Linked DNA regions of Homo sapiens. The protein of the gene in region 1 interacts with the protein of each later gene in a biochemical or structural test. Each region holds a gene or a part of one and is shown in the gene's direction. Other genes may lie near its edges.

Region 1 (4,061 bases):
TTTTCTGTATGTTGATTAGGTTTTCCTCCTTTCATTCAGAAAAAAAAGTGAAGAAGTCTGACTGTGGAGAATGGCAGTGGAGTGTGTGTGTGCCCACCAGTGGAGACTGTGGGCTGGGCACACGGGAGGGCACTCGGACTGGAGCTGAGTGCAAGCAAACCATGAAGACCCAGAGATGTAAGATCCCCTGCAACTGGAAGAAGCAATTTGGCGGTAAGCCTCATGCTACTGAGTTAATCTCCTACTCTGAGATAATTCTCAAATTTTTCCACCAAATGTCTTTTTAAGGATAAGTACTTTTTATTTTAAATAACTTTATCTTACCAGACACAAAGTGACCAGACTGGTCCCATTTCAGGCCAGGCAATTATTTGTTGTGGAGGCTGTCTTGTGCATTTTAGGGTATTTAGGAGCATCGCTGGCTTCTACTCGCTAGTTTCCGGTAGCATTCCTCACCCGCTCCAGATGTGAAAACTAAAAATGTCTCCAAATATCTATGGCCAAATGTACCCTGTTGGTCAAAATCATCCCTGGTTGGGAACCACTGCCTTTCCAAAGGGACATAAAATATATCCTTGATTCCTCTGAATAATGTTAATTGATCTGTCTTCTCTCTCCTTTCTTCTATTTCTAAGTTCCTTTGATTTTTCCTTTCCCCTTTTCTTATTTATTCTCCTGCTTCTCCATGTTTCTCCCTGTCACTTTCAGACCTTCTCTCCCATTTGATCCCTCCCCAACCTCCACACAGTTTCACAGATTCACTTACTGAGTTCAGCAGGGCTGCTCACAGCCACGTTTCATAAATCTTTCTCCCACTGACTGGAGTCAGTCTTATGCTGGCCTGATCTATCTATCTGAGACAGGATCTCTCAACACTTTCAACTTTATATCCAGTATTGAACCCTCAAATAACCTCTTCCACAATCCAGACTTTTTGTCTTTCTTAGCCATAGTGGGACATGATGCCTGAAATGTCCTATCTGTGTTCTATGGAAATGCATTGTGGCCCATAGACAAGTGAGGAAGGATAATGGATGTATACATGTATGTCTTTTTCTCCCTCTGTAATCTTTGGGGTATTTTTTATTTGAATGGATATAGACAAGTTCTATAAAAGTGTGATGGAGAACAGGTACATTTGGTCTTAAATTGTATATGGGCACCTTAAAAACCCACTTACAAAAAGTTTAAAAGGTATATCTTAAAGACTTACATTGAGAATATTAAATAACTCTCAAACTCAACAGTAAACAACAAAACAACAACAACAAAAAACAAAACAAACAAAACCTAACAGTTCAATAAGAAAGTGGGGAAAAAACATTAACAGACATTTTACCAAAGAGGATATATAGGCAACAAATGAACTCCTGAAAATATATTCAGCATCTTTTCCTTATTAGGGAACTAGAAATTGAAACCATAATGAGATATCACTCTACATCTATCAAAGTGGCTAGAATAAAAAATAGTGACAAGACGAAATGCTAGTGAGGGTGCCAAGAAACCAGATCCCTCATATGTTGCCAGTGGAAATTGTAAGGTGGTACAGCCACAGTGGAAAAAGAGTATTGCAGTTTTTTACGAAATGAAACATGCATTTACCATGTAACACAGCAGTTTCTTGGTAATTTATCTCAGAGAAATGAAAACTGATGTTTCCACAAAAACCTATACATGAATTTATATAGCAGTTCTATTTGTAGTAACCCAAGGCTGGTAACAACTCGGATGTCCTTCAGCTGATGAATGGTTAAACAAACTGGGGTACATTGGGACCATGGAATACTACTCAGCAATAGGAAGAAACAGACTATTGATGCACATGACTTGGATGGATCTTCAGGAAATTATGCTAAATAAAAAAGCCAATCTCAGAAGTTTACATATTGTAGAATTCCATTTATGCAACATTTTTAAGCTAGAAAAATGATAGAGCTAGAGAACAGATAAGGAGTTGCCGGGGATTAAGGAGGTGGGGAAGGAGGAAGGTGGCTAGGCCATGACTATAAAGAATGACCCACTGTTGTATTGGGACTGTATATTAATAGTGTATATTAGTGTGTATTAATGGTGTATATTGATGGTGATCGTATGCATCTACACATGTGATAGAATTGAACAGAAATCAATACACACGCATACACTCTGTATTATTTCTTATAGCTGCATATGGATCTATAATTATTTCAATAAAAAAGTTACAAACAAAAGTGTGCCTTTATTATCCTGGAAGTACGATAGGATCTTTCAAGGATTTCTGTTTGGTTCTACCCTGCCTTTAGCGGAGTGCAAATACCAGTTCCAGGCCTGGGGAGAATGTGACCTGAACACAGCCCTGAAGACCAGAACTGGAAGTCTGAAGCGAGCCCTGCACAATGCCGAATGCCAGAAGACTGTCACCATCTCCAAGCCCTGTGGCAAACTGACCAAGCCCAAACCTCAAGGTAAGTCCTTGCCATTATACCACAATTTTAATGGATTGATGGACTCAGGTAAGATCTGGAAAACCCACATTTTCCAGAAGGAAATATTAGGTGAATTACCTTAAGAAAGTGACTGAAAAACTCCCCTACACTGAGAGTCACAAAAATACTTTAAAAATACTTTGAAGCAGGCAGCCTGTGAGTGCAAATTGAAGTCCTCTGCATAGATGAGGGGATTGGTACAGTCTCCTAACCCAAATAAATAACATAGCAAAAGAAACCAGCAAAGACAGTTGTATGATGACCATATATTCCACACTCTTAATTGGAACTGTATCCTGACAAGAAAAACAAACTCAGAATGTTTATGACGGAGACAATTTTAAATCAAACTTCTCCCAGATTATCTGAAATATAGTTTTCACAAAATCAGGAAAATTATTTTACATTTTCCCTTTATTCACTGCATAACTTAATGGGTTCTGCATTTGTTTTCAGAGCCTTTATATTTTTTGAGTTCAATTTGGTTACCAACTACATTCATCACAGAATTTTTAAATGACAGAGATCTGTATCTCCCAGAAAGTCAGGCTCTGCTCTCTTGCTGGAGAAGGTAAAAACAATCATTATGGCCATGAATTCATACATACAAGGATCCCAACTGAGGGAAATAAACTCTTTCATCATGGATGTTATTGTCTGAATTGTGTTTTCCCAAATTCATATGCTGAAGTTTTAACCCCCTCACAATGTCACTGTATTGGAGACAGGGTCTTTAAAGAGGTAATTGAGATAAAATGCAGTCACAAGGGTAGGCCCTAATCCAGTGCAGCTGGTGTGTTTATAAGAAGGGAGATTAGGACACAGAAATACATAGAGAGAAGACTGTGTGAAGACAGAGGGAGAAGAATGCCATCTACAAGCCATAGGGAGAACCTTCAGAAGAAATCAGCCCTACAGATGCCTTGATCTTAGGCTTGTAGCTTCCAGAACTGCAAGACAATAAATAAATAAATTTCTGTTGTTTAAGCCACCAACTCTGTGGTACTTTGTTATAGGAGCTATAGCCAACTAATACAATGGGACTCAATGAACTCTAAATTCAAATACCTTCTTGGCCTCTACTCATATATTTTAACTCTAAGGTGGTCCTGAAAATTCATACTGCCAGAGAAATTGTAAGGAGAGATTCAGAAAAATGACCATGTAAGAAATGCTCATAATAAATAAAAGTAGAAAAAAAAAATCTGCAGAAGGTGATGGAGATTGGCTGGTTTCCTGCTGGTGGCCAGAAAGGACTTTATTTTTCACAGGCCTGGCTTTTTGGCCACTGCTGGAGTTGTCCATAGAAATAGTTATCTCCAACTTCAGGATGGCCAGGTACAGGCTGGACCTGCAGGTGGTGAGTCTAGGGTTCAGGCTGCCCTTTCCAGATCATGGAAATCTCTGCCTGTTGTCATATGGTTTTTGGAAGGCATGAAGCAGGGCTGGAGTGACTGCAGTGAGTACTTATGCAGACTTCCCAAATGTCATTTGTCCAGAGACAACCACATAAATCTAAGCAAAATCAGTGCCCTATCTACCAAGTGAAACATTTCCAAAAATGGCAAAACTCAGAGTTACTGTAGTCAAAAT
Region 2 (3,552 bases), on another chromosome or scaffold:
AGAACAAATCTAATCATCATGAATTCTAAATTAGTAGAGTTTGGATAAGAGAACTTTTTTACCAAATTATCTAAACTGTTGTTTTAAACTCTGTACAGAGAGCTCTGGATTTCATATGTATTTCAACATTGTCAGTTTCAGTTAGAATTTTCAGGGTAGTATTCTTTTTTAAAAAATAAGGATTTGAAGGATGGGGATTATTTGAAAAATCAGTTGTATGTAAAATGCATTGTTTTTATTACTTTCTTTTCTAACAAATTAAATGAAACATCAGACTAAATTTGAGGTACATTTTAAAATAGTAAAAACATATAACATTATAGACATTTACTTGCCAAGATCAAATGTCATGATTCAATACTTATTTTCATTGTGAGCTAATGCCTTCACCTGTCTGTCTTAAGGTCAATTAATAAACAACCCACTTGCGAAGACCTAGGGATATACGTTGGTATGAAGGGCAGTGCTTCCAATAAGATTTCCCTTGAAATCTCGTTGTGAGGACAAAATACATGCATAAAAAGAACAGAAACATCAAGTTGATAATAATAACAAAAAGTTAAATAGTACTTACCATGGGCCAGACATAGGTCTGAGTGCTTTACAAACTTTAACTCATAGGTCTGAGTGCTTTACAAACATTAACTCATTAAAAGTTTGCAATAACATGGTAAGTACAATTATTATCATCCCATTTTATAGATGAAGGAATTGAGGCAAAAGTTAAATGTTGTATCTGGGGTCACACAGCTGGTAAGTGGAGAAGGCAGGATTCCAACTCAGACTGGCTATGGAGGCCACTTGTGTAACCAGCCACCACACTGCTTTGTGTATGTGGTGGCATTCACAGTAAAGGCAAAAGAGTCTAGCAAAGAAATGACCATAGTGGTCAGGGAAGGTTTTGCGGGAAGTGGGGCCTGAAACAGGCTTTTTAGAAAACAAAGGATTTAATCAATGGAGAAGACCGCATTTCAGACCTTCCCATCTCTATTGTGAGTACTTCAGAAGGACAATCTTTTGTTTTGGTTTCTCTTTTAGCACAATAAATATTCGAAGAATGGCAGAACATTGGAGGAACAAAAGTATTAGGCAAGAATGTAAATGGTTTCAGGAGTGGACATTGAGAAAACCTATTTAACTAAAGTGATGCCATCACACAGAGAAGTAGCAAGGGATCATGTCAGGAAAGTGAGTTAGGACCAGATTACAAATGCTCTGAGTACCAGGCTGTAGCCTCTGTGGTAGTGCTTCTGACACCCTAATCTTCACAGAAACCACTGGGGTCTTGTTAAATGCACATGCAGATTCAGTAGGTCTGAGGTGGGCCCAAGAGTCTGCATTTGCAGTAAGTTTGGGTGATGCTGATGTTGCTGGTCCCCAGACCACAGTTTGAGTACCAAGACTCTAGACAACAGCAAAAAACCATTTTGTGGCTGGGTTGAGGGAAAGGGATAGGGTAGTGATGGAAAGTTGTCTATGGCACCTCCCCTGAGTTGCAGCCAACGATTTGAAAGATATATAGACCTACAATATTTTATTGAATTTGTTTATAGAACCTTTTTCTATATGCCCCGTCCCTCCTTTCGGATGCAAAGCTGTCTTGCCTGAAGATATGTTTTAAACCACGTTTTTCCTCTCTTTCATACAGAGCAAGGCTAAAGAGCTACCTCTTTCTGCTGTACGCTTTATGGAAGAATTGGGTGAGTGTGCCTTTGGAAAAATCTATAAAGGCCATCTCTATCTCCCAGGCATGGACCATGCTCAGCTGGTTGCTATCAAGACCTTGAAAGACTATAACAACCCCCAGCAATGGACGGAATTTCAACAAGAAGCCTCCCTAATGGCAGAACTGCACCACCCCAATATTGTCTGCCTTCTAGGTGCCGTCACTCAGGAACAACCTGTGTGCATGCTTTTTGAGTATATTAATCAGGGGGATCTCCATGAGTTCCTCATCATGAGATCCCCACACTCTGATGTTGGCTGCAGCAGTGATGAAGATGGGACTGTGAAATCCAGCCTGGACCACGGAGATTTTCTGCACATTGCAATTCAGATTGCAGCTGGCATGGAATACCTGTCTAGTCACTTCTTTGTCCACAAGGACCTTGCAGCTCGCAATATTTTAATCGGAGAGCAACTTCATGTAAAGATTTCAGACTTGGGGCTTTCCAGAGAAATTTACTCCGCTGATTACTACAGGGTCCAGAGTAAGTCCTTGCTGCCCATTCGCTGGATGCCCCCTGAAGCCATCATGTATGGCAAATTCTCTTCTGATTCAGATATCTGGTCCTTTGGGGTTGTCTTGTGGGAGATTTTCAGTTTTGGACTCCAGCCATATTATGGATTCAGTAACCAGGAAGTGATTGAGATGGTGAGAAAACGGCAGCTCTTACCATGCTCTGAAGACTGCCCACCCAGAATGTACAGCCTCATGACAGAGTGCTGGAATGAGATTCCTTCTAGGAGACCAAGATTTAAAGATATTCACGTCCGGCTTCGGTCCTGGGAGGGACTCTCAAGTCACACAAGCTCTACTACTCCTTCAGGGGGAAATGCCACCACACAGACAACCTCCCTCAGTGCCAGCCCAGTGAGTAATCTCAGTAACCCCAGATATCCTAATTACATGTTCCCGAGCCAGGGTATTACACCACAGGGCCAGATTGCTGGTTTCATTGGCCCGCCAATACCTCAGAACCAGCGATTCATTCCCATCAATGGATACCCAATACCTCCTGGATATGCAGCGTTTCCAGCTGCCCACTACCAGCCAACAGGTCCTCCCAGAGTGATTCAGCACTGCCCACCTCCCAAGAGTCGGTCCCCAAGCAGTGCCAGTGGGTCGACTAGCACTGGCCATGTGACTAGCTTGCCCTCATCAGGATCCAATCAGGAAGCAAATATTCCTTTACTACCACACATGTCAATTCCAAATCATCCTGGTGGAATGGGTATCACCGTTTTTGGCAACAAATCTCAAAAACCCTACAAAATTGACTCAAAGCAAGCATCTTTACTAGGAGACGCCAATATTCATGGACACACCGAATCTATGATTTCTGCAGAACTGTAAAATGCACAACTTTTGTAAATGTGGTATACAGGACAAACTAGACGGCCGTAGAAAAGATTTATATTCAAATGTTTTTATTAAAGTAAGGTTCTCATTTAGCAGACATCGCAACAAGTACCTTCTGTGAAGTTTCACTGTGTCTTACCAAGCAGGACAGACACTCGGCCAGAAAAAAAAAAAAAAAAAAAAAACAAGCAAACAAAAACATTGTGGGATGTGCACTCCATTGGAGTGCATGACATGGCATTGGGATTGGAACATGTGGTTTCGAGCACTGAAAGCTGCAAACCAGTGAAGAGGAAAAGAACCTTGTGATTAAATATAAAACCAAAAGTCAAATGGTGCTTTGTGTTTTAGCCTTCAGTCACCATGACTGGTCTCTCCCCCAGATGTATATATACCATAGCATTTGTCTACCTGCTGTCTTTTCTTCAGGACAGATGTTCAGGAATTATATTGATTGAATTTAGACTCTG
Region 3 (4,628 bases), on another chromosome or scaffold:
CCCAGTGCCTGGCCAGACCCCGGCACAGCAACCTCTCTCTCAATGATCACAGCGAACGAGCAGCTTCAGAGGAGCAGACCCAAGGGCGTGGCTCTCCCAGCTCATCATTCTCAAAGCTCAGCGCAGGGCCACTCTGTCCAGGAAGCTGCCCCTGTGGCCAGGCTCTTAACACACAGTGTGGCAGGAATCCTGCTCTGTCTTGATCCACCCAGAATGAGAAGTACTTTGTGGTCAGGGACTGTCTGATCCTCTCCAAGAGCACCTGTCCCTACAGCTCCCAAAAAGTCTCTTCCCTAAAGACCATGTACCATTAGACTTCCAAGGGTCTAGGAAACAGCTTGACCCCCTAGACAAAAGCAAACTAAGACCCTCCAGGGACGAATGGAGAAAAACTTGTGGGTGGAGGCATCTCCTTTCCTGAGTGCAAGGAGGGCAGCCTGTCCTCTTTGCTTCCATCCCCAAGGGGTTCCTCACTCTGCCCCCATGTCACTCTGATCCCTCTGCTCCCCCAGCATGCCTCAGCCCCAATGTGGGGTGAAAGAGGTACATCATAGAAAACGTGAGCCTAAGATCTATCCATTCCTAGGCTCAACTCTCATCTCTGTATCTTACCAGCTGTGTGACCTTGGGAAAGTGACATAACCTCTCAGAGGCCAGCACCAGCATTTGTAAAATGGTGACGCTACCTCATAGTTATGAAAGGAGAGAAACTGCATGTAGCCCTCTTGCCCAGACATTCTACAAATAGTAGCCAGAAATATGAGGCTCTCTCCCCACTTCCCTCCCTGCCAAACTCTCAGCCTAAGCATGGCTAACACAAAACAGATTACCAATCCCTTTCCTTTCTCCCTGAGGACAGCAGGGCTAGGCTGGGATTTTCCAAGAGGACTTCGCCCATGGAGAAACAGGCATGAAGTAATCTTGTTTGCAGGGTGTAGGTTTCCTACTGTGCAACAGCCCCAGTGGCTAGACTCCACACCCCAACCCTCCCCAAGACCTGGGCACCTTCTCCCCCTTCCCTGTCCTTTCTCCTGCGGGCTTAGGGGTCCCAGGAATGAGCAGCCAGTCCCCCTGCTCATGCCATGTTCTTCTCTCTTGTCCTGGTCACACCGGTGATCTACCAGGGGCCTTCCAAAGACCCGGCCTGGCCAATACCCCTGTCACCCTGGTGGGGAGGAAAGGTGGGCAGCTGGCTTTGTCCACCCCCTACACCCTGCTTCTTTCTCAGACCACCTAAGGCTCCCTTCTGCCTGCAACTTCTCTCCCCTCCCAGCGACCCCCTAAGTGCTCACTCAGTGCCTTGGGTGATGGGGTGGAGAGCTCCCCTCGTCACATCCCCGCACAGAGCACCTAGTTTCCTCTGCTGGGTGTTCTCAGCCACCGCCTGTGCCTTTAAGAACTGCCACCCTGTGCCAGGGGCTTGACCTCAGCATCCTCAGCTGAGTTGGATTAAGGGACCATTTCGTGCCTTTGTGAATTCCTCCTGGCTGCCATCCCTTCCCCCACACAGAGACAGAGTAGCCCATAGGCCAAACCACTCTACCAAGGACAGCCCAAGAACTGGTCTAGCCTGGCAGCCTTTTCCCTCGGGTAGTAGAGGCTGCCCCTCTGACAGGGAGTTTGTGGTCAGCGAGTGGGCCCTTGGGGGTCTTGGGCTGTCACAGGGACTCCAGAAAGCCATGCAGAGCCTTGTGCCATGAAGGACTTCTCAGATGTCATCCTCTGCATGGAGGCAACAGAATCGAGCAAGGTAAGGACCACATAGAATCGTGCTCCTAAGACCCAGCACCAGTGGTCACTGCTGCCCTCAGCCCTCAAGTATCTCCCCCTTCCAGACCGAGTTCTGCAATCCTGCCTTCGAGCCTGAGTCTGGGCCACCCTGCCCTCCCCCAGTTTTCCCAGAGGATGCCAGCTACAGCGTCCCAGCTCCCTGGCATGGTAACCATCCCAGGGGGTGACCTGGGGGAGGACAGAGAGGCCCAGGAGCCAAGGACAGCATGAGGAATACCCAACAGAAGGGGCTTTCAAAACCCCACCTGCCAACCCGCAGGTCGGCGTCCTCGAGGGCTACGGCCAGACTGCCGCTTCTCCTGGCTCTGTGTCCTCCTGCTCTCCAGCCTGCTCCTCCTGCTGCTTGGGCTGCTGGTGGCCATCATCCTGGCCCGTAAGTACCCGGGGACAGCTTGAAACGAGGGCTTTGGAATGAAACTCCATGAGCCGCTCTCCCAGCCTCCCAGGACCCAGCTCCTCTGAACGCCACCCTCCATCTTCTCGCCTCCAGAGCTGCAGGCTGCACCCCCATCTGGGGCGTCCCATAGCCCACTGCCTGCCGGAGGCCTTACCACGACCACCACCACCCCCACCATCACCACCTCTCAGGCAGCTGGGACCCCTAAAGGGCAGCAGGAGTCAGGCGTGAGCCCCTCCCCACAGTCCAGTGAGTACTGGGGGCAGATCTTCCGGGAGAAGGGCCCAAGATGACGGGGTGGGGTTGAGGGGAGGGTGAGGAAGAGGCACCTTGAGAATAAAGGACCTCACTCCTTTTGACCTCTGAACTCTAACCTCCATCTCTGCAGCCTGTGGAGGCCTCCTCTCTGGCCCAAGGGGCTTCTTCAGCAGCCCTAACTACCCAGACCCTTACCCCCCCAACACCCACTGCGTGTGGCATATCCAGGTGGCCACAGACCATGCAATACAGCTCAAGATCGAAGCCCTCAGCATAGAGAGTGTGGCCTCTTGCCTTTTTGATCGCTTGGAACTCTCCCCTGAGCCTGAAGGCCCCCTCCTCAGGTAGGTCCCTCTGTCCCCAGGACATCCCACCGTGTCCTGAACCACTATCTAAAGAGCAGAATCAGGGAGTGGCAGGGAGAAGGGCTAACCGAGGAAGAAATTGAGAGACTAGACCTCTGGGCCCAGCTCTGCCACCACCTTGCTGTGTGCCGTGAGGAAGATCACTTCCCCTCTCTCACCTGTTTCCTAGTCTGTAACATGGATCTCCTGCCTATCTCCCCATGAGTAGATGCTACAAGGATAAATGTGCAGGTGCTAGGAAGGTCAGAGCTCCCTGGGACATCAGAGGAGCCTTTTTGACCACATGGTCACCAGTTTGGGGGTTGAGAAAATAGGACTGCAAGGCCCAGGCAAGCTCCTCTCTGGCTGACCCTGCTCTTGGAGCCTCCCTCACCCCCAACCTGGCTTCTTGCAGGGTTTGTGGAAGGGTGCCTCCCCCCACGCTCAACACCAATGCCAGCCACCTCCTGGTGGTCTTCGTCTCTGACAGCAGTGTGGAAGGATTTGGTTTCCATGCCTGGTACCAGGCTATGGCCCCTGGGCGCGGTGAGTGTGTTCCCACCTGCCTGTTGAGTGTCCACTTTCTTCCCCTCCACCCACTCCCAGTCCTGTCAAAGGGGTGGAGACTCCGGGCCTCCCTGACTCCTGGTGCCCACATCCAGGGAGCTGTGCCCATGATGAGTTCCGCTGTGACCAGCTCATCTGCCTGCTACCTGACTCAGTGTGTGATGGTTTTGCCAACTGTGCTGACGGCAGTGATGAGACCAATTGCAGTGCCAAGTTCTCGGGTACGGGCCAGGCATGGGGGTCCTCTCTTCAGGCGTCTGATCTGGGTTCAAGCTGGGCTCCCCAGCTCTGGTCCAGCCTCAAACCGGGCCCTCCGTCAGCATTTCCTGCTCAGTCATTCTTTGGCCCAGAACTTGTTTCCCATGGGCATGGCCAAAACTCTCGCTCTGTAATCACCGCCAGCCCTATTGGATGGAGGCACAGATCCTAGCAAACTCATGAGCCCTTCCACCTCTCTACAGGGTGTGGGGGGAATCTGACTGGCCTCCAGGGCACTTTCTCTACTCCCAGCTACCTGCAGCAGTACCCTCACCAACTGGTAAGCACAGTGCTCCATGCAGAACGGGAGGGGCACACACGGAAGCACCTGATCCCCAAGTTAGTGTAATGGGAATGGCATGGTAGACACTACCTTCTACTTGGGAAGGTCAGAGATCAAGCAGACGGGGGATGGGGGAATATTATTAAGTGCCTGCTGTGTACCCAGATGTTCCCACACTGGGTCAACTCACCTCTGAAACCAGGTAAATTAAAGGTCCTTAAGAACCACCAATGATGAAAGCACCACCCCATCCCCCCAGCCAGCAGTGGGGGAAGAAGACCCTTCTGGGTGCCCGGGATGAGACAGGAGAAGGGGCCATGAATTGCTCCACCTATGCCCTCCCCCAGCTCTGCACCTGGCATATCTCGGTGCCTGCCGGACACAGCATAGAACTACAGTTCCACAACTTCAGCCTGGAGGCTCAGGACGAGTGCAAGTTTGACTACGTGGAGGTGTATGAGACCAGCAGCTCAGGGGCCTTCAGCCTCCTGGGCAGGTACAGGAGCCAGGGAAGAGCCATGGATAACTCCATCCTCACTGTCTGCCACCCCCGGCTTCCATGTCGGCCCAGCACATTCCATTCTCCAGCTTCATTTTCTTCTGCTACTCCAGGCCGGGGGTCTCTTCACCATCACCCTAAAGACAGCTCTCACCTCAAAACCTTCACCCCACACTCTCCCTGTCCCCAGGAGGTCCTTCCCCAAACCTCTCCCTGCCCCAGTTCCTCCCC

What was found. Proteins that work in one complex are often made in the same cells at the same time.
Region 2: the proteins of PTN (region 1) and ROR1 form a complex in vitro, tested with the Homo sapiens proteins (one large-scale study listed by BioGRID).
Region 3: the proteins of PTN (region 1) and MFRP form a complex in vitro, tested with the Homo sapiens proteins (one large-scale study listed by BioGRID).

Annotation. Positions count from the first base shown.
Region 1 is NC_000007.14:137,249,616-137,253,676, reverse strand, and holds part of PTN (pleiotrophin isoform 1 precursor), read left to right. Parts: intron 1-39; coding exon 40-213; intron 214-2,285; coding exon 2,286-2,447; intron 2,448-4,061.
Region 2 is NC_000001.11:64,175,780-64,179,331, forward strand, and holds part of ROR1 (inactive tyrosine-protein kinase transmembrane receptor ROR1 isoform 1 precursor), read left to right. Parts: intron 1-1,648; coding exon 1,649-3,076; 3' UTR 3,077-3,552. UniProt on the Homo sapiens protein: Has very low kinase activity in vitro and is unlikely to function as a tyrosine kinase in vivo. Receptor for ligand WNT5A which activate downstream NFkB signaling pathway and may result in the inhibition of WNT3A-mediated signaling.
Region 3 is NC_000011.10:119,343,582-119,348,209, reverse strand, and holds the start of MFRP (membrane frizzled-related protein), read left to right. Parts: upstream 1-1,504; 5' UTR 1,505-1,696; coding exon 1,697-1,750; intron 1,751-1,835; coding exon 1,836-1,938; intron 1,939-2,050; coding exon 2,051-2,164; intron 2,165-2,281; coding exon 2,282-2,437; intron 2,438-2,576; coding exon 2,577-2,790; intron 2,791-3,205; coding exon 3,206-3,336; intron 3,337-3,452; coding exon 3,453-3,578; intron 3,579-3,818; coding exon 3,819-3,895; intron 3,896-4,245; coding exon 4,246-4,394; intron 4,395-4,628. UniProt on the Homo sapiens protein: May play a role in eye development.